Linked DNA regions of Homo sapiens: regions 2 and 3 are each linked to region 1. The links come from fine-mapping of genetic effects on gene expression. A gene starts in region 1. Each other region holds a variant in brackets. All regions are shown on one strand. Distances are between the middles of the regions. Region 1 holds the start of DPEP2 (dipeptidase 2). Region 2 overlaps NFATC3 (nuclear factor of activated T cells 3). Region 3 overlaps PSKH1 (protein serine kinase H1).

Evidence for each region. PIP is the estimated chance that this variant, and not a neighbour inherited with it, causes the effect. A credible set is the group of variants that fine-mapping cannot tell apart.
Region 2: its variant is the best candidate, but not a certain one, in a credible set for the expression of DPEP2 in whole blood (INTERVAL, PIP 0.50).
Region 3: its variant is the best candidate, but not a certain one, in a credible set for the expression of DPEP2 in whole blood (INTERVAL, PIP 0.71).

What each region holds. Positions count from the first base shown.
Region 1 is chr16:67,993,747-68,004,601 of GRCh38, forward strand. It overlaps DPEP2 (dipeptidase 2), which reads right to left and starts at 5,738. Exons shown (of 11, transcript NM_022355.4): 1 at 5,629-5,738. It also overlaps the pseudogene KARS1P3. RefSeq lists an enhancer at 4,161-4,677.
Region 2 is chr16:68,219,247-68,224,246 of GRCh38, forward strand. The region is part of intron 9 of NFATC3 (nuclear factor of activated T cells 3); the gene reads left to right. Among named protein-coding and RNA genes, the nearest start is that of MIR6773, 12 kb to the right of the region's middle. The variant C/T (reference allele first, on the strand shown) is at 2,814.
Region 3 is chr16:67,894,873-67,905,727 of GRCh38, forward strand. All of the region lies in intron 1 of PSKH1 (protein serine kinase H1), which reads left to right. Among named protein-coding and RNA genes, the nearest start is that of PSKH1, 7.0 kb to the left of the region's middle. The variant T/C (reference allele first, on the strand shown) is at 5,192.

The DNA.
Region 1 (10,855 bases):
TTTCCTGGTGCTGGGTTGTGTGGGTGGGTGTGGGGGAGAAGATAGGCTCTGGAAATGAGGGGTTAACCCTGTGGACTGGATTCAGGAAGGGGCCCCCTGGCCCTGACCTTCTCTCTCCCGTAACTTAGGCCCTCAAGCCTATACTCTGGGGAATCTCCCAGCTACTAGGACCTGTCAGGAGCACTCCTCCGCCCCCCGCCCCGACCGCACATTCTCCAATCAGCCTTAGGAAAGAGCTCCTTCCTAAGGAGCTGCCACACCTCCCCAGGACCCCAGTGGAGGGATGAGAGCGCAGCAAGCATCTGGCCACTGCCAGGGAACATTCACTCAACAGAGCAGGAACCCACACAGCCATCTGCATGGAAGGAAATGAAGTCTTGTCTAGGGCAGCAGAGTCCCCGGCCGCAGCACCTTCCTCCTAGAGCTTCTGGCTGATCTGCTGGCCAGGATACCTCCTACCTCCTTGAGGAAGCCCCGGCCTCGTCCAGGTCAGGAGTAAGGGGCCTGAGGAAAGCCCTGCCACCTGGGTTCTGCAGCCACACTCCTCTTATCTTGTGGCTCCTGTGGCTTGAGCTCTCACAGAAACCTCCAGGGCTGAGTCCCTTCCTTGACGACAGGCCCCACCCCATTCCCGGCCTGGGGCCCTCAACCTAGATGCCTCCTCCAGGAAGGACCCCCAACCACACAAGCACACAAGCTCACAATCACACAGGCACAGGGGATGTGCCCGCTCACAGAAGCCCCACGACCTGAGATCTTCCGGGACTGTGGCCAAACCCCTTCGTCCTCAGAGACCTTTGCCTCCTCCTGCCCCTCAGGCTCTCAAGACTCTGCTCTGAACCTTGGCACCCCTGGAACCGCTTCATTTTTTGGAGCCTCCCCCACGTGGCAGGGCTGATCAGTGCATGGGTAGTGTGACCTAAGCCTGACGACGACTAGAGATTCAAGAAGGCCTCCTAAAAAGAAAATGAACCAACTCTTCCAAAGGGACTGGAGGTCCCAAGCTACCCAGGAGGGGAAGTGATCCCAGCTTTGATGTATTTTAGGGACTGCACACTTGATGTTGCCCAGTGTCTGCTGTCCAGGAGGAAGGCAGATCGATGGCCGAGTGCTCGAGGTGGGTTAACTGTCACGTCTACTGCTGCCGAAGGGGGTCTTTTTTTGTTTGTTTTGAGACAGAGTCTCACTTTGTTGCCCAGGCTAGAGGGTAGTGGCACAATCTTGGCTCACTGCAATCTCCACCTCCTGGGTTCAAGCGATTCTTGTGCCTTAACTTCCCGAGTAGCTGGGACTACAGGCATGCGCCACCACGCCCGGCTAAATTTTGTTGTTTAGTAGAGATGGGGTTTTGCCATGTTGCCCAGGCTGGTCTCGAACTCCTGGTCTCAAGCAATCTGCCTGCCTCAGCCTCCCAAAATGCTGGGATTACTGGAGTGAGCTACCGCACCTGGGCTTTTTTTTTATTTTTTATTTATTTTTTTAATTAAAGACTGTCTTGCCTTCTTGCCCAGGCTGGTCTCAAACTTCTGGCTTCAAGTGATGATCTCACCTTGGCCTCCCAAAGTGCTGGGAGTATAGATGTGAGCCACTGTGCCCAGCCCTGCTGGAGGGTTCTATAGGGAGGCCCACTGCAGATGGTGAGTCCTCTTGGGCTCTGCTTCAGAGAACAGTAGGGCGTGTCCCAGATCTGGGTGGTTTGGGTACCCCAACACAGGCTTCCCTCCTTCTCTCCATCATCCACTGCTGGTCAGCAGCTCCCCACACCCACTGGAATAGTGAGAGGGAGGAGAAGCTCTTGGATTTGCTGGTCTCCAGGTCAAAGATGTGGTTTTGGGGATAAACAGTTTATTCTGAGAGCCCCAAGAGGTAAGGGGCATAAAGAATGAGGAACTGAACCTGATCATTATGTGTTATATGTATTGAAACATCACTATGGGTGGGGCGCAGTGACTCACACCCGTGATCCCAGCACTTTGGGAGGCCGAGGTGGGTGGATCATCTGAGGTCAGGAGTTCGAGACCAGCTTGGCCAACATGGGGAAACCCCATCTCTATTAAAAATACAAACATTAGCCGGGCTTGGTGGTGCGCGCCTGTAGTCCCAAATACCTGGGAGGCTGAGTTGGGAGAATCGTTTCAACCCAGGAGGCAGAGGTTGCAGTGAGCCGAGATTGGGCCACTGAACTTCAGCCTGGATGACAGAGCGAGACCCTGTCTCCCCCCGCCAAACAACAACAACAACAACAACAACAACAACAAAAATCACTATGTACCCCATGAATATGTGCAAATTATTATTATTATTGTTTTTGAGATAAGGTCTTGCTCTGTCACCCAGGCTGGACTGCAGTGGTGCAGTCTCAGCTCACTGCAGCCTTAACCTCTCAGGTTCAATCAATCCTCCCACTTCAGCCTCCCGAGTCTGGGACTACAGGTACTCGCCACCACACTCGGCTATTTTTTTTTTTTTTTTTAGAGACAGGGTCTCACTATATTGCCCAGGCTGGTCAATTATTATTTGTCAGTTTGAAAAATGTAAAAATAAGGAAGGGGTAGGTAGGAATAAATAAATAACAGCTGACAGAGTAGGTGAGGAGAATTCAACTTTTTGAATTTTTTTTCTTTTTTTTTTGAGACAAAGTTTTGCTCCTGTTGCCCAGGCTGGAGGGCAATGATGTGATCTTGGCGGGCAATGATGTGATCTTGGCTCACTGCAACCTCCACCTCCTGGGTTCAAGTGATTCTCCTGCCTCAGCCTCCCAAGTCACTGGAATTACAGGCATGTGCCACCACACCTGGCTAATTTTGTATTTTTTAGTAGAGATGGGGTTTCTCCATTTTGTTCAGGCTGGTCTTGAACTCCTGACCTCAGGTAATCCACCCACCACGGCCTCCCAAAGCGCTGGGATTATAGGTGTGAGCGACCGCACTCGGCCAACTTTTTGCATTTTTTTTTAAGCTTCTCTCCAGAGCCCGAATGTCTGACCTCCTGGGACTTGGGGTACCTGCTAGCTCAGCAGAGGCAGGCTGAGTTGAGCCAGTAAAAGTGAGCACTGTCTCTGTAGGAGATAAGCCAGACAACACAATTTTCCATGATATGCAACTTCAGTCCTCAAATGTGGCCTTGAGGGGACCATACAAAGCGAATCACAGACACACCCACACTTGTAGTTGCAGTGAGCATTATGATAACACCATAGCATTCCAGCCTGGGTGACAGGGCAAGACCCTGTCTGTAAAAAAATAGATAATGATATTATTATTATTATTATTATTATTATTATTATTATTATTATTATTTTCTGAGACAGAGTTTCATTCTTGTTGCCCAGGCTGGAGTGCAATGGTGCAATCTTGGCTCACTGCAATCTCTGCCTCCTGGGTTCAAGTGATTCTCCTGCCTCAGCCTCCCGAGTAGCTGAGATTACGGGCGCATGCCACCACTCCCGGCTAATTTTTGTATTTTTAGTAGAGATGGGGTTTTGCCATGTTGGCCAGGCTGGTCTCGAACTCCTGACCTCAGGTGATCCGCCTGCCTTGACCTCCCAAAGTGCTGGGATTACAGGCATGAGCCACCCCCGACCCTTGGCCAAATTTTTTATTTTTATATTTATTTGTTTATTTATTTTGAGATGGAATCTCGCTCTGTCGCCCAGGCTGGAGTGCAGTGGCACAATCTCGGCTCACTGCAAGCTCCGCCTCCCGGGTTCAGGCCATTCTCCTGCCGCAGCCTCCCGAGTAGCTGGGACTATAGGTGCCCGCCAACACGCCCGGCTAATTTTTTGTATTTTTAGTAGAGACGGGGTTTCACCGTGTTAGCCAGGATGGTCTTGATCTCCCGACCTCGTGATCCACTCACCTTGGCCTCCCAAAGTGCTAGGATTACAGGCATGAGCCACCGCGCCCAGCTCACATTTTTTAAAATGGAAGAAATAGGTATGGCTTTTCTGTAGGGAATGGGCTGGAGGCCAGGAGATCAGGAGGGGTAAGGAATGAAGGGGCCTGTAAGGGGGAGAAGCAGTGGGAACAGGAAGGAGACATTCCTGGGACATGTTTGGAAGTTGAACCCAGGATTTGGAGATGCTTTGAAGCAGGGTTGGTGGGAGACAGTAAGGAGGAATCAGCGGTGACACTTAAGGTCGGCTCTGGAGTCAGGCCCTGAGTTTCCCCGCCTCTGCCTTGTTTCCACTCTGCCCACTGCCAGCATCTAGCTAACTTAGACTGTAGCCTCTGACCCCAAATTATCCCTGTGCTCAGGTCTGTGCCACTGATATTGGCAGCTCCTAATGAGAGGTGACAGCGTGCTGCCAGTCCTCACAGCCCTCGCTCGCTCTCGGGGCCTCCTCTGCCTGGGCTCCCACTTTGGCGGCACTTGAAGAGCTCTTCAGCCCACCGCTGCACTGTAGGAGCCCCTTTCTGGGCTGGCCAAGGCCAGAGCCAGCTCCCTCAGCTTGCAGGGAGGTGTGGAGGGAGAGGCGCGAGTGGGAACCGGGGCTGCGAGCGGCGCTTGCGGGCCAGCTGGAGTTTCGGGTGGGCGTGGGCTTGGCGGGCCCGCACTCGGAGCGGCCCGCGGGCCCTGCTGGCCCCGGGCAATGAGGGGCTTGGCACCCGGGCCAGTGGCTGCGGAGGATGTACTGGGTCCCCCAGCAGTGCCAGCTCACAGGCGCTGCGCTCGACTTCTCACCGGGCCTTAGCTGCCTTCCCGGGGGGGCAGGGCTCGGGACCTGCAGCCCTCCATGCCTGAGCCTCCCACCCCCTCCATGGGCTCCTGTGCGGCCGGAGCCTCCCCGGTGAGCGCCGCCCCCTGCTCCACAGCGCCCAGTCCCATCGACCACCACAGGGCTGAGGAGTGCGGGCGCATGGCGCAGGACTGGCAGGCAGCTCCACCTGCATCCCTGGTGCGGGATCCACTGGGTGAAGCCAGTTGTGCTCCTGAGTCTGGTGGGGACGTGGACAATCTTTACGTCTAGCTCAGGATTGTAAATACACCAGTCGGCACTCAGTATCTAGCTCAAGGTTTGTAAACACACCAATCAGCACCCTGTGTCTAGCTCAGAGTTTGTGAATGCACCAACTGACACTCTGTATCTAGCTGCTCTGGTGGGGCCTTGGAGAACCTTTGTGTCGACACTCTGTATTTAGCTAATCTGGTGGCGACGTGGAGAACCTTTGTGTCTAGCTCAGGGATTGTAAACGCACCAATCAGCACCCTGTCAAAACAGACCACTCGGCTCTACCAATCAGCAGGATGTGGGTGGGGCCAGATAAGAGAATAAAAGCAGGCTGCCTGAGCCCGCAGTGGCTACCTGTTCTGGTCCCCTTCCACACTGTGGAAGCTTTGTTCTTTTGCTCTTTGCAGTAAATCTTGCTACTGTTCACTCTTTGGGTCCATGCTGCTTTTATGAGCTTTAACACTCACCGCGAAGGTCTGCAGCTTCACTCCTGAAGCCAGCGAGACCACAAGCCCACTGGGAGGAACAAACGACTCCAGACGCACTGCCTTAAAAGCTGTAACACTCACCACGAAGGTCTGCAGCTTCACTCCTGAGCCAACAAGACCACAAACCCACCAGAAGGAAGAAACTCCAAACATCCAAACATCAAAAGAAACAAACTCCAGACGCGCTACCTTAAGAGCTGTAACACTCACTGCGAGGGTCTGCAGCTTCATTCTAGAACTCAGTGAGACCAAGAACCCACCAATTCCGGACACACTAAGACAAGATTTCACTAGTGTGTGCTGTTTCCCCTGCAAGGGGGAGGGCACAGAGATGGCTTTGGGTGAGGTTAGGGGGAGGATAGGCCTCCTGGTTGGCTAACACTTGTTTACTTCTGGGGCATGAGTGTTCATGTGAGCCCACGATGCCTGGCCTGTTCCTCTTTTAACAAAGTCTGGTAGGACATGGTGGCTCATGCCTGTAATCCCAGTAATTTGAAGGTCGAGGTGAGAGGATCTCTTGAAGCCGGAGGTTTGAGACCAGTCTAGGCAACATAATGAGAACTCTAAGAAAAAGGAAAAAAAAAAGTGGTGCATGCCTGTGGTTCCAGGTACTTACGAGGCTGAGGTGGGAGGTTCGCCTGAGCCCAGGAGTTTAAGGTTGCAGTGAGAGACGATGGCACCACTGCTCCCTAGCCTGGGCGACAGAGTGAGACCCCATCTCTAACAAAACGAAAACAAGATCCAATGCATCCTCCTGCCTGAAGTTCTTCCGTGGCTTCTCATTGCAGAAATCTACCGAATTTCTTTCTTTGGCTTTCAACTCATGGAGAGTCTGCTCTCACCAGCCTCTCCAGTCTCAGCAAATAGCACAAACTTTCCTGTCCTCCAAAATCTGGCCACCTCAGTGATGCTACGTCCCCCCATAGAGCCTTGGCACAACCTCAGCCTCCAATTGGTAGGGCTGTTGAGGCAAGGCCAGGATAGGAAATCTTGCTACCAGGAAGGAGTAGGTGGGTGAACAGCTTTTCCCTCTACTTCCTCTTCTATGCAGTGTTTGCATAAATCAAGACCTGCAGAGGAGGCAGCAGTAGAAACAGTTTGCTCCAAGGACCAAACTTATTCTGGTGTGCAGCTCACTCGCCCCTACTCATCTCCAGTGTATTTCAAGAGTATGCAGGGAAGGAAAAAGTCAGGCTGAGTTATAGCTGCACAGGCTGCCTCCCATGCTCAGAGCGCAGAGGTGGGGTGCAGCTGGGGCTTACTCAGTATCCAGCAGTGCCCAGATGATGATCATCTGCATCCAAGCCCCTCTGGTCCTGGAGACTCATGCTTCCCTTTGATGTCGCCCTGGATCTGCTCCCATGATGTCTGATACAGACAATTCCCAAGAAACAATAGTCTTCCAAGCCAGAAAGCAGCCTGGCCACTGTAGACAAACATCCTCCAATCACCAAGCTGAAGCCACCCTTCCTGAAACGTCAAATAGCTAACATAACATTTTTCTTCCACAAAAGGAAGTCAATGTTTATGTTTCTAGGAGAAGTGCAATAACCCCAAATGCATCTTTATCTCCTGAATGCATCTAGAACCTTCTGCTCAAGCCTTACCAACCAACCCCTACCCCGCCAGCCTCTCTGTCCAACATTCCTGGGGTGCTTTTTTTTTTTTTTTTTGGAGTGCGAGGGCACGATCTCGGCTCACTGCAACCTCCACCTTCCAGGTTCAAGCGATTCTCCTGCCTCAGCCTCCCAAGTACGTGGGATTACAGGCATGCACCACCAGGCTGGCTAATTTTTGTATTTTTTTTAGTAGAGATGGGGTTTCACCATGTTGATGAGGCTGGATTGTCTCGAACTCCTGACCTCGGGTGATCCACCAGCCTTGGCCTCTGAAAGTGCTGGGATTACAGGCATGAGCCACTGCGCCCGGCCTTTTTTCTTTTCTTTTTTTTTTTTTTTTTGAGACAGGATCTTGCTCTGTTGCCCAGGCTGGAGTGCAGTGGTGCCACTTTGGCTCACTGCAACCTCCGCCTCCCAGGTTCAAGCAATTCTCCAACCTCAGCCTCCCTAGTAGCTGGGGCTACAGGCATGCACCACCATGTCCAGCAAATTTTTGTATTTTTAGTAGAGACGGGATTTCACTACATTGGCCTTGAACTCCCGGCCTCAGGTGATCCACCCGCCTTGGACTCCCAAAGTGCTGGGATTACAGGCCTGAGCCACTGTGCCTGGCCCTGGGTTGCTTTCTGATGGAGACGATTGATGACTTGGGTCCCATGTGTACCATTGAGTTCCTCTTGCAGCTGGGTTCTGCCTGATTTCAGACAGTACAGAGGATCTGGGACAGAAGGCTGCATGCTATCCCATGTCCTTGAGGTAGTGCCATCAGCCGAGGGTGGGGAGGAGGCAGGAGGGCCCTGGGGTGCAGGAGCTGGATCCAGCAAGGCCATTAAAAGTATCTCAGGGGACAAGAGATGGTGGCTCATGCCTGTAATCCTAGCACTTTGGGAGGCCAAGGCATGAGGATTGCTTGAGGCCAGGAGTTCAAGACCAGCCTGGGAAACATGGTGAGACCCCTTCTCTACAAAAAAATTTTTTAAAAAGTAGCTGGTCATGGTGGCACATGTCTGTAGTCTCAGCTACTCAGGAGGCTGAGGTGGGAGAATTGCTTGAGCCCAGAAGTTAGAGGCCACAGTGAGCTATGGTCGCTCCACTGCATTCCAGCCTCTGGGAAAGAGCAAGACCCTGTCTTAAAAATAAAATACCTTTTCCGAAACATTTTTTGTAAGATTAAAAAAAGAGAAAAGAAGGAAGGAAGGAAGGAATAAAGAAAAGAAAAGAAAAAAATTTTAAAAGGTTGGGTATGGTGGCTCACGCCTGTAATCCTAGCACTTTGGGAGACCAAGGCAGGTGAATTGCTTGAGCTCAGGAGTTCGAGAGCAGCCTGGGCAACATGATGAAGCCCCGTCTTTATAAAAAATACAAAAATTAGCCAGGTGTGGCAGTGCACACCTGTAATCCCAGCTGCTTGGGAGGCTGAAGCAGGAGAATCGCTTGAACCCGGGAGGCGGAGGTTGCAGTGAGCTGAGATCGTGCCACTGCACTCCAGCCTGGGCAACAAGAGCGAAACTCTGTCTCAAAAAAAAAAAATTTCCTTTTAGAGACAGGGTCTCACTGTGTTGTTCACTGAAACTTCAAACTCCTGGGCTCAGGCAATCCTCCTGCCTCAGCCTTCCGAGTTGCTGGTGGAATCTGTGAGAAACATGGTGACTCGGTCAATAACCATGCCCCAGGCAGTTGTGGGGGACAGCCTGTATTCCATGGCGGCAACAAAGTTTTCATCTACGGACAGGGCCTCATCATCACCTGCGGCCTTAGCCTGTTCTTCAAAAAGCTGCCACTGCTGCATAGGATCATTTAGATCAGTGTAGGCATTGCTTATCGCTTTCTTTATGACAAATAGCTTAAAGCGCTGGGTCAGACCTTTTGAGTAGTGCCATTTAGCCAAAGGGCTCATTATCTGGGGGTGATCACAGATGAATGTAGAATTGTTGCAAATCACTTCCAGGAACTCCCCCAACAAGCTTGTCAAGGAGCCTGGCTGTGGTCCTAGGTGGAGGGCACGCAATAGCATTTGCACGCAGATATTATCAAGAATTTTGCCAATTGCTTCAGTTTCAAATAGGTTATTTTCTGGCAGCTTCACCCCCAGGGCTTTCTCAAGCTCTTCTATCATGCTGATTCTCCGGAAGGGTAGGGTGAAGTCAATATTGCAGGCTTATCCCTCTGGGACATCTGGGTAGTAGGTGACCTTGTAACTACCTGTATTATGCTTCACCATCCCTGGAACCATCTTCCCCGTGATTTCCGTGAGATTGTGATAGTCTAGGCCATGTAGAACTCAGGGGTGCTGAACTCAGGATTTTACGTCAAATCAATTCCTTCATTCCAGAACTGGAATGCAATTTCATAAACCTGGTCAATGCCACCAACCACTAGCATCTTATGGTAGAGTTCTAGAGTAGTTCATGTGCAGCTTGTTGTGATAAGTGATGAAAGGCTTGGTCATAGCTCCCCTGGGATGACGTTCATTCATGGGAGTTTCAAGCTCTAGGAATCCCAGCTCATCCAAGAAACTTTTTTTTTTTTTTTGAGATGGAGTTTTCTTGTTGCTCAGGCTGGAGTATAGTGGTGCAATCTTGGCTTACTGCAACCTCCACCTCCTGGGTTCAAGTAATTCTGCTTCAGCCTCCTGAGTAGCTAGGATTATAGGCACCTGCCACCACGCCCATCTAATTTTTGTATTTTTAGTAGAGGTGGGGTTTTACCATGTCGTCCAGACTGGTCTCGAACTCCTGACCTCAGGCAATCTGCCTGCCTTGGCCTCCCAAAGTGCTGGGATTACAGGCGTGAGCCACTGCACCTGGCCTAAGAAACTTATTATACATGTGATGATCTTACAGCAGATGATAAATTTCTGCCTCATTCATTCAGGATCAAGTCCAAGTATCTCTGACCATACCTTATTTCCTTGTCTTTGAGGCCAAAGTGAAGATGAGGTAACATATACAAGCAAGGCCACAGCAGTGTGATCTCATAGGGAATGAAGCTCAGCTCATCCTTCTTGGTTTTTCCCAGGATTCCTCTGAATTCCAATTATGTTTCCCCAACGCAGTTTGTTATTAATATGAATAAATTATTCTTCCTGAAATTATAATTCCTGAAATTGGCCATGACTTGCAACTTGACCCCCTCTGCTCAAAGATCATAGAAGTTCATGGCTGGGCACTGTGTCTCACGCCTATAATCCCAGCACTTTGGGAGGCCAAGGCAGGCAGGCAGATCACCTGAGGTTGGGAGTTCGAGATCAGCCTGACCAACATGGAGAAACCTCACCTCTACTAAAAATACAAAATTAGCCGGGCGTGGTGGCGCACGCCTGTAATCCCAGCTACTAGGGAGGCTGAGGCAGGAGAATTGCTTAAACCTAGGGAGGAGGAGGTTGCAGTGAGCTGAGATTGTGCCATTGCATTCCAGCCTGGGCAACAATAGTGAAATTCCATCTCAAAAAAAAAAAAAAAAAGATCATAGAAGTTCAGCTTTCCTCCAAAAGCTTTTTTGGCATGGATCCTATCTGTCACGTTTAAGGTGATATCAGTCAGGAGATCCCCAGTTTGCAGGTGACAATATTCTGGGATGAAGTCAGTGAGGGAGATGTCTACATGGATCTCGTTGGGGTATGGGTCTTTCCCATTGACCTACCTGACTGCAAATCTTTTTTTTTTTTTTTTTTTTTGAGACAGAGTCTCGCTCTGTTGCCCAGGCTGGAGTGCAGTGGCTCAATCTCAGCTCACTGCAACCTCCACCTCCCAGATTCAAGCGATTCTCCTACCTCAGCCTCCCAAGTAGCTGGAATT
Region 2 (5,000 bases), 220 kb after region 1:
GTGGCAGGTACCTGTAATCCCAGCTACTTGGGAGGCTGGGGCAGGAGAATTGCTTGAACCCGGGAGGCGGAGGTTGCGGTGAGCTGAGATCATGCCACTGCACTCCAGCCTAGGTGACAGAGCAAGACTCTGTCTCAAAAAAAATAAATAAAAATAAAAAAATAAATTAGCTGGTCTTGGTGGCACATGCCTGTAGTCCCAGCTACTTGGGGCAGGGCTCTGAAGCGGGAGGATCGCTTGAGCCTAGGAGTTCACGGCTGTAGTGAGCTATGATCACACCACTTCACTCCAGCCTGGGTGGCAGACTAAGACACTGTCTCCTAAAATAATAATAGTAATAATAATAATAATAACACCTTCATAAAATTGTTTACCCAGGGGATGAATACCTTTAATCTTCAGGTTCAGGAAAAGAATAACATGACCAAACTTTGGTGAATGTTCATTGCAGCTTCAAGAGGAAATAACATATAAATGGAGTCTAAAAATACCCCGAAATCCTTTACAAAATTGCAAATTAGAAAGGCCCGTTGGGATTTTGTGTATATGGCAGTGTGTATCTACTCCCTTCAAAGAGGGAGCACACTGGGTTACCCTGCCCCTCTCTACCTGGTTGTGAGGTTCCATACTATATACTTGTCAGTTCTAACTTTGAATTCTTAAGCATGGGAAATAGCTCTAAATAAGAGTCCTATTGGTACTCAAGCACCTCATTCTTGTGTGTAGAAATAGCATTCCAGTGGACTGCCAATTTGAACATTTCTTGAATACGAACTTTTTCTCTTACAGCAAACATTATTGATAGCTGTGACTCTACTTTTGTTGTGGTGGCACAGGCAAATTCAGGTGTTGGGGTAGTGGAAGTCACAGATGGTGGCTGCCAAAAGTGTGCCAGATCCTGTGACCTACATAACCTGTTAGCACCCTTATTGAGGACTGTTCACTCTTGTTCTAGGCTTTTAATTCACTTTGCTCTTTAAAGGGAGGAAAATGAGGGCTGGGTGCGGTGACTCACGCCTGTAATCCCAGCATTTTGAGAGGCCGAGGTGGCCAGATCATGTGAGGTCAGGAGTTTGAGACCAACCTGGCCAACATGGCAGAAACCTCGTTTCTACCAAAAATACAAAAATTAGCTGGGTGGGAGGCAGCAGTTGCAGTGAGCCAAGACCACACCACTGCACTCTAGCCTGGGTGACAGAGTAAGACTCTATCTCAAAAAAATTGGGGGGAAGAAAAATGATAAAATTGTACATTAGGGGCATAAACAATTCCTTATACTCTTATCTTAAATTGGTGAAAAAAATAGGAAACCACCTCACATACTTAGTGGACTAGAGTTTATTTTTCCTTTTTTTTTTTTTTAAGAGACAAATTGTCCCGGCCGGGCAGGGTGGCTCACGCCTGTAATCCCGGCACTTTGGGAGGTCGAGGCAGGTGGATCACGAGGTCAGGAGATCGACACCATCCTGGCTAACACGGTGAAACCCCGTCTCTACTAAAAAAAAAAATACAAAAAAAAAAAAATAGCCAGGCATTGTGGCGGGCGCCTATAGTCCCAGCTACTCGGGAGGCTGAGACAAGAGAATGGCGTGAACTTGGGAGGCGGAGCTTGCAGTGAGCTGAGATTGCGCCACCGCACTCCAGCCTGGGAGACAGAGGGAGACTCTGTCTCAGAAAAAAAAAAAAAATTGTCACTTTGTTTGTTGGCCAGGCTCTTCTTGAACTCCTGGCCTCAAACAATCTTCCTGCCTTGGCTTCCCCTAGTGTTGGGATAACAGGCATGAGCCATGGCACCTGGCCTGGATTACAGTTTAAATAAATTAGCAAATTCATGCATATATCCATTCAAGATGACTTGAAAAATTAAATTGCAAGCATTAGTATTTTTAACAACTTAAAAATTGTGCTTATCAAGATTGCTAATGACTTACATTTACATTACATCATAGATTTGTTTACCAGTAATAATTTTGACTTGCTTCAGTTGAGACCTACGTTTTGGCCAGTCCCAGCAGGAAGATATCTGAGGAATCTAGAGGTGAGAGCCTGAACCCAGAGCCCCCAGCCCGAGGGAGAAGTGAGGGAGAAGGAAAGCAGAGGACTTGCATGATTAACACTCGGCTCAAGTTATTGCTAAAGGTCTGTGAAAGCACTTTGTTGCAGTTCTGACTCCCTAGCCTAAAATTTATATTCAGTGCTCACCTGTAGCAATTACTTGAGCATGATTTTTGTTGTCATTGTTCCAAGTCCCCAAATTGTTTTAAAGATTCAGTTGGCAAGTAATTTTATTTAGTACTCAATATATGTAAGCACTAGGGATTCAGGGGAAAACAAGATAGAGAAAGTCTGCCCCGTTGGAACTTAAATCTCCTGACTGCTGGTGAATTCATAAATAAGTGAATCCTGTAGTATAATGTATAGTTGAGTATAGTCCGCTTGAGCACTACTTTGTGGAAAATCTTCTGACTTTAACATAGTCTTAAAATCCTAAACTGTCAGGAACTTTCCAGGTTCCTTCAGCTAAGTAAGGTGAGGCACACCAGGCAAAGGAACAGCAGAGCTTTGGCAAGGGGGAGCAGAAATAACACAGCATTGAGCAGGCTTCCATTATAATCAATACCACATATCTACTTTAGAAAATGATGGTTTCATCCTTATATAAGTGTACTTGGTAAGTGGATGGACAGTGCCAGATATGGACCCTCATCGTCAGGAAAATAGAAGCATTGACTTCTTATAAGATATAGAAGAACAACACCTCGGCTGGGTGCAGTGGGTCACGCCTGTAATCCTAGTACTTTAGGAGGCTGAGG[C/T]AGGAGGATCACTTGAGTCCAGGAGTTTGAGACTAGCTTGGGCAACATGGTGAGACCTCATCTCTGCAGAAAGAAAAAAAAAATCCAAAAATTAGAAAGGCATAGGCGTAGTAGCACATGCCTGTAGGCCCAGCTACTCAGGAGGCTTAGGTGGGAAGATCAAGGCTGCAGTGAGCCGTGATTGTGCCACCTGCATTCCAGCCTGGGCAACAGAGTGAGACCCCATTGCCAAAAAAAAAAAAAAAAAAAAAAAAAAAAAAAAAAAAATAGAAAAAAGAAAAAAAAGAGAGAAAACACGTCATGTGGTTTTTGATGATAAAACACCATTTAAAATCCGTTTGTAGTTTTAAAACTTGAACAGTGAAATACAAATTGTTAAAAGTGTTTTTCATAGCAGCCTGGAACATCTTTGAAATTATTGCCTTTGGAAGTGATAAATGATAAGAAAAGATGATTTGATTGTGAGCCAGGTGCTTGCTTATATATTTGGCTTTTTGCCACTGCTGTAACGCCTGCCTAAAATACACACTGTGAAAATCAAATAACATGCATTAGTCTTAACATACTCTGGTCCCCTTCCTACCTACCACCTAATGAACTTTCACTGTGCTTGTTCTAAATAGCTTCCAAGTGATTGTATTGAATTAGGGTCCATTTATTTAGTCATCAGGAATGGGTGTTTCCTCAGTGGCAAGGTTCTTGCCTTTTGGGAGTTCATAGCCTATTTGGGAGACATAATGATGATGCCTGATGATAATCTAATATGAAGAGGAGGCATGTTAGAAGTCACGCACAGAGATTTGTGGGCCATCCTTGTGCTCCCTCTTAGCACAAGACTAGCTCGTAGAACCCCCAGAACCTGCACAGAAAACACTCTTCCTTATATTTTTTGTGACTTGAAATAACAGGTGCCAAGGGCTGCCTTGCGTTCTTATGCCCACTTTATATTCCCTCTCTATGTACTGTATAAGAGGTATTTCTCTTCTCCATTGTACTGATGGGGAAACTGAAGAGAAAAATATATTCTTATGCAAAGCATCCTCACAACTTTTCATTTACAAAGAAACTATTCCAGTGAGTTATTTTTAGAAAGTCAGGAGTAAGTTTAGTTTATATTCCATTATTCTTTGCAGCATCCATTATGAATGGTTAATAAATCCTAGCCTGGCAAATTTACTTAAATATCATCTGACAGGTCAGGCACAATGGCTCATGCCTGTAATCCCAGCACTGTGGGAGGATTGCTTGAGGCCAGGAGTTAGAGATCAGCTTTGGCAACATAGCAAGACCCTATCTCTACAAAAAAAATTTTAAAATCAGCCAGGTGTGGTAGTGTGTGCCTATAGTCCCAGTTATTAGGTTGGTGCAGAAGTAATCACGGTTCTTGCCATTAGAAGTAATGCCAAAAACCACAATTACTTTTATACCAACCAAATACTTTGGAGGCTAAGGTGGGAGAATGGCTTGAGCCCAGGAGTTCAAGTTTGAACCATGATTGCACCACTGCACTCCGGTCTGGGTAACAGAGCGAGACCCTGTCTCTTAAAAAACAAAACACCAGGCGTGGTGGCTCACACCTGTAATCCCAGCACTTTGGGAGGCTGAGGCAGGTGGATCATGAGGTCAGGAGTTCAAGACCAGCCTGGCCAAGATGGTGAAACCCTGTCTCTACTAAAAATACAAAAATTAGCCGGGCACGATGGCGGGCACCTGTAATCCTAGCTACTTGGGAGGCTGAGGCAGGAGAACCACTTGAACCCGGGAGACGGAGGTTGCAGTGAGCCAAGATTGTGCCGCTGCACTCTAGCCTCGGTGACAGAGCAAGACTCCATCTCAAAAAAAAAAAAAAAAAAAAATCTGACAAAGTACTTTATTAATCTATACCTTAAAAAATTGCTTATCACTGGCCAGGCGCGGGGGCTCATGCCTGTAATCCCAGCACTTCAGGAGGCCGAGGTGGGTGGATCATGAGGACAGGAGATCGAGACCGTCCTGGCTAACATGGTGAAACCCCGTCTCTACTAAAAATACAAAAAATTAGCCGGACACGGTGGCATGCACCAGTTTAAAAAAAAAAAAAAAAAAAAGCTTATCACTTAGTAGTTATTAGCTCACCAGTATTGATTAATCTTCACTGTTTTGCAGAGTCCTTTGGCTTCAAGTCCCTACTTCTTTACTATTCTATGT
Region 3 (10,855 bases), 99 kb before region 1:
CTGGGATAATTTTGTGATACAAAATCAAGAGCCTTACTGTCTGAGTTAGTTTTTTTTTTTTTTTTTTTTTGAGACGGAGTTTTGCTCTTTTTGCCCAGGCTGGAGCAATGGCGCGATCTTGGCTCACTGCAACCTCTACCCCCCAGGTTCAAGTGATTCTCCTGCCTCAGCCCCCAGAGTAGCTGGGGTTACAGGCAAGCACCACTATGCCCAGCTAATTTTGTATTTTTAGTAGAGATGGTGTTTCACCGTGTTGGCCAGGCTGGTCTCGAACTCCTGACCTCAGGTGATCCACCTGCCTCGGCCTCCCAAAGTGCTAGGGTTGCAGGCATAAGCCACTATGCCTGGCTGAGATTTTTTTTTTTTTGTTTAAACAGAGACGAGGTCTCGCCATGTTGCCGAGGCTGGTGTCGAACTCCTGGGCTCAAGCAGTCCTCCCACCTTGGCCTCCCGAAGTTTTAGGGTTACAGGCAAGAGCCACCACACCTGACCCACTCTTTGAGATTTTGATGAAGAAGATCTGGGGTAGGAATCTGTATTTTTTTTTTTTTTCTGAGATGGAGTCTTGCTCTGACACCCAGGCTGGAGTGCAGTGGTGCGATCTCGGCTCACTGCAACCTCCGCCTCCCAGGTTCAAGCGATTCTCCTGCCTCAGCCTCCCGAGTAGCTGGGATTACAATCACGCATCACCACGCCCAGCTAATTTTTGTATTCTTAGTAGAGACGGGATTTCATCCTGTTGGCCAGGCTGGTCTTGAACTCTTGACCTCGTGATCCACCCGTCTCAGCCTCCCAAAGTGCTGGGATTACAGGCGTGAGCCACCATGTCTGGCCAGGTATCTGTATTTTGAGAAAACTTCCCAGGTAACTTTACTGTGCTTCCTCATTGAAGATCTTTGTCATTGCCTAAGAAAACTGTTGTCTCCTTTGTCCAGTGAGAAGGCCTTGCCTTGTGGACTCCTGTTGTGGTCTCATGCCTAGAAGCATGGGCTTTGGTGTCAGAAAGACCTGGATTCAGTTTCTGGCTTTTCTGAAATCTTGAGGTTCTCTAAGTCCTAATTTCCTTATTCCAAAATAGGAATCATCGTGCCTACTACATGTGCTTGTAGAGAGGAGTGAGATGGTACATATAAGATCCTTAGCAAAGTTGGCACTCAGTTAATGGAAGCCACTTTTATTACTAATGGCTCCTCTTCCCAGAGTTTCCCTTGTCAAAAGAAGGTCTTGTCTTCTTTTTTCTTTTCTTTTTTTTTTTGAGATGATGTCTCGCTCTGTCGCCAGGCTGGAGTGCAATGGCGTGAGCTCGGCTCACTACAACCTCCGCCTCCCAGGTTCAAGCAATTCTCCTGTCTCAGCCTCCTCAGTAGCTGGGACTACAGATGCCTGCCACCACACCTGGCTAATTTTTGTATTTTTAGTAGAGACGAGGTTTCACCGTATTGCTCAGGCTGGTCTCAAACTCCTGACCTCAGGTGATCCACTCACCTCGGACTCCCAAAGTGCTGGGATTACAAGCATGAGCCACCACAACCGGCTAGAAGGTCTTGTCTTAATAAGCGTGTTTGTTCTTCAGGGTTAGTTGTGTGTAGGAAGCTGCTTTGTATTGTGTGATTTCCTCAAGGTCATTTCTGGTCATCGGGGAAAACTGACAATAGTGTGCTTCTTTTTTTTTTTTTTTTTTTTTTTTGAGACGGAGTTTTGCTCTTGTTGCCCAGGCTGGAGTGCAATGGCTCAATCTTGGCTCACCGCAACCTCTGCCTCCCGGGTTCAAGCGATTCTCCTGCCTCAGCCTCCCGCAATATGGTGCCTCTAAATCAGGGTCGATTCAGTTGGCCATACCCCTAGAAGAGATTTGGAATGCTGATTCACTAGAGGGTGGGTTTGCTGAATAAGCATATTGTCTAGGTCTAATTGTAGTTTTGTGCTTGTTAAGTTGCATAAATGAGCTAGAAAAAGTGCAGCCTTCAGGAAACCTGTTTGCATCTGACACTGAGCTCCAGTTGCACTTCACCTCAGGCATCTGGTTGGCATCTAGAACAGAATGCCCCTACAGAAGTAGGTGCTGGAGTTCTCTATCATAATCACAAGTTCATAGTTAAATGAGTGAGACTTTGGTTTGGCCTTCTGTTTTACTTTGGAAGTGTGAGTGTGTAATATGGGCAACTTAGGTCCTCTTCACAGCTTCTCAGCTGTATGATGTGAATGGGCTATAGGTGTGCCAAAGTATCGACCCTTAAGCTTCAGGATAGCTGAGAACAGCTGTCTCCACTGACTCCCGGGTGTTATACAATAGTATCATTCTATCATTCTCTCTGTGTATCTTGGCATGGGGAAAAATTTTTGAGAAAAAGTACAGCTCTGGAAGAAGGGAAGCAGTTCTGCTTGTTGAGAGCTGGAGAGAGACTTATTTATTTGAACTCCCTTTCCTTCCAGGAATCTTACTCAAGGAGCATTAAGCCGGTTTGTGTTGGCTAGGTCATCACTGAGCTAATTCTTGGTACAGCCCTCTGTTGCCATGGTGTCTGATGTGATGCTAAGGTGGAAACATGTGATGTTTTCATTTGCTGGGAGAAAGTTTTCTTTCCAAGCTGCCAGCCTTGAAATGGCCTCTCAGGGCATCCTAAGAGTCATGTATCAAGGGACTCTTGGTGTGGAGCCATCCAGGCTGTAAGTTCCTTAAGATTAGAGACTATGGCCGCCTTCTTTTTGTTTGTCGCAATCTCTGGCAGAGTTCCTGACCCACAGCAGGAATTCAGTAAATATTTCTGGGTTGAACGTTGGGATTTTGGAAGGAGAACCCCAGGTACATTGCCAGGGTCTGTATTTCTGATGATGGCGAGGTCTCACTCTGTTGCCCAGGCTGGAGTGCAGTGGCATAATCATAGCTCACTGCAACCTTGCCTTCCCGTGCTCAAGTGATTCTCCCACCTCAGCCTCCTGAGTGGCTGGGACTACAGGCACACAGCATCACACCCAGCTAATTTTGTTTTTTTGAGACGGAGTCTTGCTTTGTTGCCCAGGCTGGAGTGTAGTGGCGCCATCTTGGCTCATTGCAAGCTCTGCCTTCCGGGTTCATGCCATTCTCCTGCCTCAGCCTCCCGAGTAGCTGGGACTACAGGTGCACGCTACCACGCCCGGCTAATTTTTTTTGTATTTTTTAGTAGAGACGGGGTTTCACTGTGTTGGCCAGGCTGGTCTTGAACTCTTGACCTCATGATCCACCTGGCTCAGACTCCCAAAGTGCTGGGATTACAGGCGTAAGCCACCGCGCCCAGCCACACCCAGCTAATTTTTTAAACATTTTTTGTAGAGAGGCCAAGACAGGCAGATCACTTGGGCTCAAGAGTTCGAGAACAAGCCTGGGCAACATGGTGAAACCCTGTCTCTACTGAAAATACAAAGATTAGCCAGGCATCCTAGGTACTCGGGGGCTGAGGCACGAGAACCGCTTGAACCTGGGAGGAGGAGGCTGCAGCGAGCCGAGATTGCGCCACTGCGCTCCAGCCTGGGTGACAGAGTGAGACCCTGTCTCAAAAAAAAGAAAAAACTTTTTTTTTTTTGTAGAGACAAGGTCTTGTTATGTTGCCCAGCCTGGTTTCAAACTCTTGGCCTCAAGTGATCCTCCTGCCCTGGCCCCCAGAGTGTTGGGATTATAGTTGTGTGCCACTGCGTCCAGCCTTATTTCTGTAATTATTGAGAAATTACTACCTACTTCATTTTAGTAGACAGTTTTTCTTTCTTTTTCTTTCTTTCTTTTTTTTTTTTTTTGGAGATGGAGTCTCGCTCTGTTGCCCAGGCTGGAGTGCAGTGGCGCGATCTCAGCTCACTGCAACCTCTGCCTTCCGGGTTCAAGCAGTTCCCTGCCTCAGCCTCCTGAGTAGCTGGGATTACAGGCATGTGCCACCACACCCAACTAATTTTTGTATTTTGAGTAGAGACAGGGTTTCACCATCTTGGCCAGGCTGGTCTTGAACTCCTGACCTCGTGATCCGCCTGCCTCAGCCTCCCAAAGTGCTGGGATTACAGGTGTGAGCCGCTGCGCCCAGCCGGTAGACAGTTTTTCAAAACATGTCAGTAGAATATAGAGATATTTGCAGGTGACAGGTTATAAAGCTTTGCTTGGAGAGGGCAAGGTTCCTATGGTTCCTTGCCTGGAAGACATTCACAGACCCTGCCTCTATGGATAGGAAATTGTTTCAGGATTCATCCTTGCTCCCTGCCCCGGGACCCCTAGCTTTCCCCAGAAATGGGGCTAGGTTTGGCAGCTTGTGAACAAACTTACTTTGGCATTCAGATAAGAATCTGTAAAACTCAAACAGACTTCCTTCATTGTTGAGGATATTTACAGGGTGTCCAAAGAGTGTGGCTATGGTTTAACCACCGATCTTGCCTCTTCAACATTTCTAAGGTTCTAGAATTGTTGACTTGCAGCAAATAGAAATCCAAGAGCCAGACCACATTTTTTTTTTTTTTTTTTTTTTGGAGACGAGTCTCGCTCTATGGCCCAGGCTGGAGTGCAGTGGCGCAATCTCGGCTCACTGCAAGCTCCTTCTCCCGGGTTCACGCCATTCTCCTGCCTCAGCCTCCTGAGTAGCTGGGACTACAGGCGCCTGCCACCACACCGGGCTAATTTTTTGTATTTTTAGTAGAGACCGGGTTTCACCATGTTAGCCAGGATGGTCTCAATCTCCTGTCCTCGTGATCGGCCCGCCTTGGCCTCCCAAAATGCCGGGATTACAGGCATGAGCCACTGTGCCAGCCCACATTTCTTTTATTTATTTATTTATTTTTTTGAGATGGAGTCCTGCTCTGTTGCCCAGGCTGGAGTGCAGTGGCGTGATCTCGGCTCACTGCAACCTCTGCCTCTCAGGTTCAAGCGATTTTCCAGCCTCAGCCTCCCAAGTAGCTGGGATTCCAGGTGTCCACCACCACACTTGGCTAATTTTTTTGTATTTTTAGTAGAGATGGGGTTTCACCATGTTGGACAGGTGGTTTCAAACTCATGACCTCAAGTGATCCACCTGCCTCGGCCTCCCAAAGTGCTAGGATTCCAGGCATGAGCCACTGTGCCCTGCCTGTTTTTCTTTTTCTTTCTTTTTATTTTCTTGAGACGGAGTGCTGCCCTGTCGCTTAGGCTGGAGTGCAGTGGCATGATCTCAGCCTACTGCAACCTCTGCTTCCCAGGGTCAAA[T/C]GATTCTCCTGCCTCAGCTTCTGAGTAGCTGGGATTACAGGTGCCCACTACCATGCCCAGGAAATTTTTTTGTATTTTTAGTAGAGATGGGTTTCACCATGTTGGCCAGGCTGATCTTGTACTCCTTACCTCAGGTGATCCACCTGCCTTGGCCTCCCAAAATGCTGTGATTATAGGCGTGAGCCACTGCGCCCGGCCAGACCACATTTCATTTGCTCTGAGTTCAGCAATTTGATAAGTACCAAGGGAGTTCTGGAAACCTGAGAATGGCCCCTTCCCTCAAGGGTCTGACAGCTGTAGTGATCAAAGGCAGTCTGGAGTAGAGCAGTGAGCAGTGTGACTCAGATTATAGTTGGAATGGAGGTTTCTAAAGCAGACCCTTCAGGAAAGATCCTCAGGAAAGCTTTGTGGGTTCACCAACTCAGTGGCATGGGGAAGGATCAAGGCCTTGACTGGATGAGGCCCAGCACTGCTGGAGTCTTTCCGGAGTGATAGAAGGAGCCCCAGATGGGGAACTAGGATATTTGGGTCCAGGATATTTGGTCACCACCGTCTGAGTGGCTTTGGACGAGTCTCTTTACCTCTCCTGGACTGTCATTTCTGTAGATTGTCAGTGAGGACGATAATGCTGAATGCTCATACCCATTGCCACACTCTGTCCAATGTGCGTGCCTTCTTTGAAGAGTGCTTTGGACCAGGCTGGGAGTTTAAGTTTTGGAGGCAGACTCTAGAGAGTTGGGTACTTTCTGCAAGATGACATACTGTGACACTCCTGGGAAGTCTCTTCCTGAAGCTTCCTTACTCATCCTTGCCCATCCCTACACCTACCGTGATCTCTGGGCTAGGGGCACACACAAGAGATGCTGGGAACAGGAAAAGGCTCTGCTCTTCTTCCTAGGAGCTTTACCAGCCACCTCCCGTGTTATAGAGTCTGCATTTTCACCTGACCACAGTGTGGAGAGGGAGTTTAACAGATGTGATGGGACTGTGGAGCAGCTGTGATCACCTGGGGGCTGTTGCCCATTGTCCCCACCTCTCAGCCAGCACCCTCTCTTCTCTACTTTCTTTTTTTTTTCCCCTCTCTTGGCCAATTTGGTCTAATATCCTCCAGTTTCAATCTGTAGTTGGGATGGTGGAGTACCCGCATCAGCCTATCTTTACAGAGTTTCTGATTGGAATCAATGTGAGAGAAACTATGTCTCAGGAAGACAGAAGGAAGATCAGAGGGAAAATCATTGACTCTCTTATTGCCGACTGACTTTATTTTGTTTTCTTTCTTTCTTTAAGAGACGGAGTTTCGCTCTATCGCCCAGGCTGGAGTGCAGTGGCGCGATCTCAGCTCACTGCAACCTCCGCCTCCTGGGTTCAAGCAATTCTCCTGCCTCAGCCTCCTGAGTAGCTGCGACTGCAGGCTCATGCCACCACGCCTGGCTAATTTTTTTTGTATTTTAGTAGAGACGGGGTTTCACCGTGTTGCCCAGGCTGGCTCAAACTCCTGAGCTCAGGCAATCCACCTGCCTTGGCCTCCCAAAGTGCTAGGATTACAGGCGTGAGCCACCATGCCCAGCCTATTTTTTTTTTTTTTTTTGGAGACATGGTCTTGCTCTGTTGCCCAGGCTGGAGTGCCATAGCACAAACACAGCACACTGCAGCCTCGACTTCCCTGGCTCAAGCTATCCTCCACCTCAGCTTCCTGAGTATCTGGGACTACAGGTGCATGCCACCACGCCTGACTAATTTTTTGTAGAGATGGAGGTCTCACTACATTGCCCTGGCTGGTCTCAGACTCCAGGGCTCAAGTAATCCTCCCACCTTGGCCTCCCAGAGTGCTAGGATCACAGTGTAAACCACTGCGCCCTGATGCTGACTTACCTTTGATCCCTGTAGGTTTTATTTGTTTAAAGTGAAAAGTGAGGCCGGGTGCAGTGGCTCACACCTGTAATTCCAACACTTTAGGAGGCGGAGGTGGGCGGATCACTTGAGGCCAGGAGTTTAAGACCAGTCTGGCCAATGTGTTGTAACCCTGTCTCTACTAAAAATACAAAAATTAACCAAGCATGGTGGCACATGCCTGTAGTCCCAGCTACTTGGGAGGCTGAGGCACGAGAATTGTTTGAACCTGGGAAGTGGAGGTTGCAGTGAGCTGAGATCGTGCCACTGCACGCCAACTTAGGTGATAAAGCGAGACTCCATCTCAAAAAAAAAAAAAGAAATAAAAATGAATCGAAAAGTTAGACCTTTTGTTTTTTGTTTTTTTGAGACAGTCTCGATCTCTCACCCAGGCTGGAGTACAGTGGTGCGATCTCGGCTCACTGCAGCCTCCCTGGTTCAAGCGATTCTCCTACCTCAGCCTCCTGAGCAGCTGGGATTACAGGCGCGTGCCATCACGTCCGGGGCTAATTTTTGTATTTTTAGTAGAGACGGGGTTTCACCCATGTTGGTCAGGCTGGTCTCAAACTCTTGACCTTGTGATCCGCCCACCTCAGCCTCCCAAAGTGCTGGGATTACAGGCCTGAGCCACTGCGCCCAGCCAGGCCTTTTCTTTTATAAACCTTAGGTTTTTCCCTGAGGACCAGACTAGGTCCTCATTTAAACAAAAATTTAAACAAAAATACCCAGTACATGTGCCTGTAGATGACTGTTTATTTTGTGAATCTAGGGTTCTGCTTCTTCACCAGGAAGAAGTGACATCTGAGTGGCTGTGCTGGGTTACTCATGCAGTTTGTCTTGCCTCCGAATGGTGGTAGATGTTGTTACTGAGTGGTCGTGGGCATCGGGGTGAGGGACCTGTGTTCTGCCTCAGGAATACCAGCCCAAGAGGAGCTTCAGTCCTTCACTGCATGAGGTGTTGTGTTTTCCCTGAAAGAAGAAATAAGTCTGCAAAATTCCACAGTCCGTAGTTCTATCCTGTGGCCTCTGCGAAAAGGAACCTTGGTTCTAAATGCCTTTGTTTAACATTATTTCCTAGTTGCCATGTGGAACTTCCTGTGCATTTGGGTGAGAACAGCTGCAAATCCTGAAGAGCCTTGTGGAGGAATCTTTTCCTCTTATGTGAAGAAAAATAAACAATATTTTTTTTTGGTTTGGTTTGGTTTTGCTTTGTTTTTCAGACAGGATTTCTGTCTCCCAGGCTGGAATATAGTGGTACCATCACCGCTCACTGCAACCTCAACCTCTTGGACTGAAGCAGATCCTCCCACCCTAGCCTCCTAAGTAGCTGGGATCACAGGCACATGCCACCATGTCTGACTCAATTTAAAAAATGTTTGGCAGAGATAGGGTCTTTCTGTGTTGCCCAGGCTGGTCTTGAACTCCTGGACTCAAGTAGTCCTCACGCCTTGGCCTCCCAAAGTGCTGGGATTACAGGCATGAGCCACTATGCCCCATAGATAAACCTCATTTTTTCCTCTCTCTCTCTTTTTGAGATGGAGTCTTGCTCTTTTGCCCAGGCTGGAGTGCAGTGGCACAGTCTCAGCTCACTGCAACCTCCGCCTCCCAGGTTTAAGCGATTCTCCTGTCTCAGCCTCCCCAGACATCAGATTCTGTATCTAGTAACCCACAGTAAATGTCACATGGATGGTCTACATGCACCCCACACATCCAAAACTGAACTCTTTCCACTGCTTCCCAAATCTGTGCTTCTTGCTACACTCCTGACCACTTGCCGCTGAGCTGTGCAAGGGACGGGGTGCTGTCCTCATTCTTCCTTCCACCCAACATGGAAGTTCTGCTGCTGATAGCTCTCGATTCCACTCCACTGCTTGGGGCACTACACTCTTTTTTTTTTTTTTTTTTTTCCTTTTTGAAACAGGGTCTTTCTCTGTCACCCAGGCTGGAGTGTAGTGGTGTGATTATCGCTCACTGCAGCCTTGATCTCTTGGGCTCAAGCAGTCCTCCTGCCTTGGCCTCCAAAGTAACTGGGACTACAGGTGCATACCATCATACCCAGCTGATTTTTTTTTTTTTTTTTGAGACGGAGTCTTGCTCTGTTGCCCAGGCTGGAATGCAGTGGCATGATCTTGGCTCACTGCAACCTATGCCTCCCAGGTTCAAACAATTCTCCTGCCTCAGCCTCCAGATTAGCTGAGATTACAGGCGCCTGCCACAATGCCTGGCTAATTTTTGTATTTGTATTTGTATTTTTTATATATTTTTTGAGACTGAGTCTCACTCTGTCACCCAGGCTGGAGTGCAGTGGCGCGATCTTGGTGGCTCGCTGCAACCTCTGCCTCCTGGGTCCAAGTAATTCTGCCTCAGCCTCCTGAGTAGCTGGGATTACAGGCATGCGCCACCACGCCCGACTAATATTTTTGTATTTTTTTGGTAGAGATGGGGTTTTACCATATTGGCCAGACTGGTCTCGAACTCCTGACCTTGTGATCCGCCCACCTCGGCCTCCCATAGTGCTGGGATTACAGGCATGAGCCACCGCGCCCCGCCTAATTTTTGTATTTTTAGTAGAGACAGGGTTTCTCCATGTTGGTCAGGCTGGTCTCAAACTCCCTACCTCAGGTGATTCGCCTGCCTCAGCCTCCCAAAGTGCTAGGATTACAGGCGTGAGCTGCCGTGCCTGGCCTACCCAGCTAATTTTTTAATCTTGTAGGGACAGGGTCTCACTGTGTTGTCCAGGCTAGTCTCAAACTCCTGCACTCAAGCTATCCCCCCACCTCAGCCTCCCAAAGAGCTGGGATTACTCCCGGTGCTGGGATGGCCACACCTGGCCAATGGGACACCACACTCTTACTGGTCCTTTTTTAATTTTTTTTTTTTTTTTTTTTTTTGAGACAAAGTCTCGCTCTGTCGCCCAGGCTAGAGTGCAGTGGCGTGATGTCTGCTCACTGCAACCTCTGCCTCCCGCATTCACGCCATTCTCCTGCCTCAGCCTCCCGAGTAGCTGAGACTACAGGCACCCACCACCACGTCCGGCTAATTTTTTGTATTTTTAGTGGAGACGGGGTTTCACTGTGTTAGCCAGGATGGTCTCGATCTCCTGACCTCATGATCCACCCGCCTCGGCCTCCCAAAGTGCTGGGATTACAGGCATGAGCCACTGTGCCCAGCTCTTACTGGCCCTTTTAATCCACTTTGACCCTCCTTCAGGTCAACCTCATCCTTCTCTCTAAACACAGATCTGAATGCCTCTTTTCTTGTAAACCCTTTCGTAGCTCTCCTTCACTTCCCAGGAAGGTCCTGGTCCTCACTTGTGTTGCTCTCCATAACCACCTTCTGCTGACCTTCTATAACTTCATCTCCACATCCCTGCCTTTGTACCACCAAACTGCCCATTCCTAGATGCAGGATGTTACTCTGGGTTTCTGAGCCTTTGCAGTGTGTTATTCTCTCTCCCTGAAACACCATTCCCACCTTTCCTCATCTGACTCATTCTTGCTTCAAAATTCAGCATAGAGGTTACCTCCTTCAGGAAGGTTTTCCTAACCCCGACTTCACTCTACATTATATACTATTGGTTCTTAAGCTTAACACTTAACCATGTTATACTGAAATTATGTTTTTGGCTGGGCACAGTGGCTCACACCTGTTATCCCAGCACTTTAGGTGGCCAAAGCTGGCGGATCACTTGAGGTCAGGAGTTGGAGACCAGCCTGGCCAACATGAAACCCTTTCTCTCTACTAAAAATACAAAAATCACCCAGGCGAGGTGGC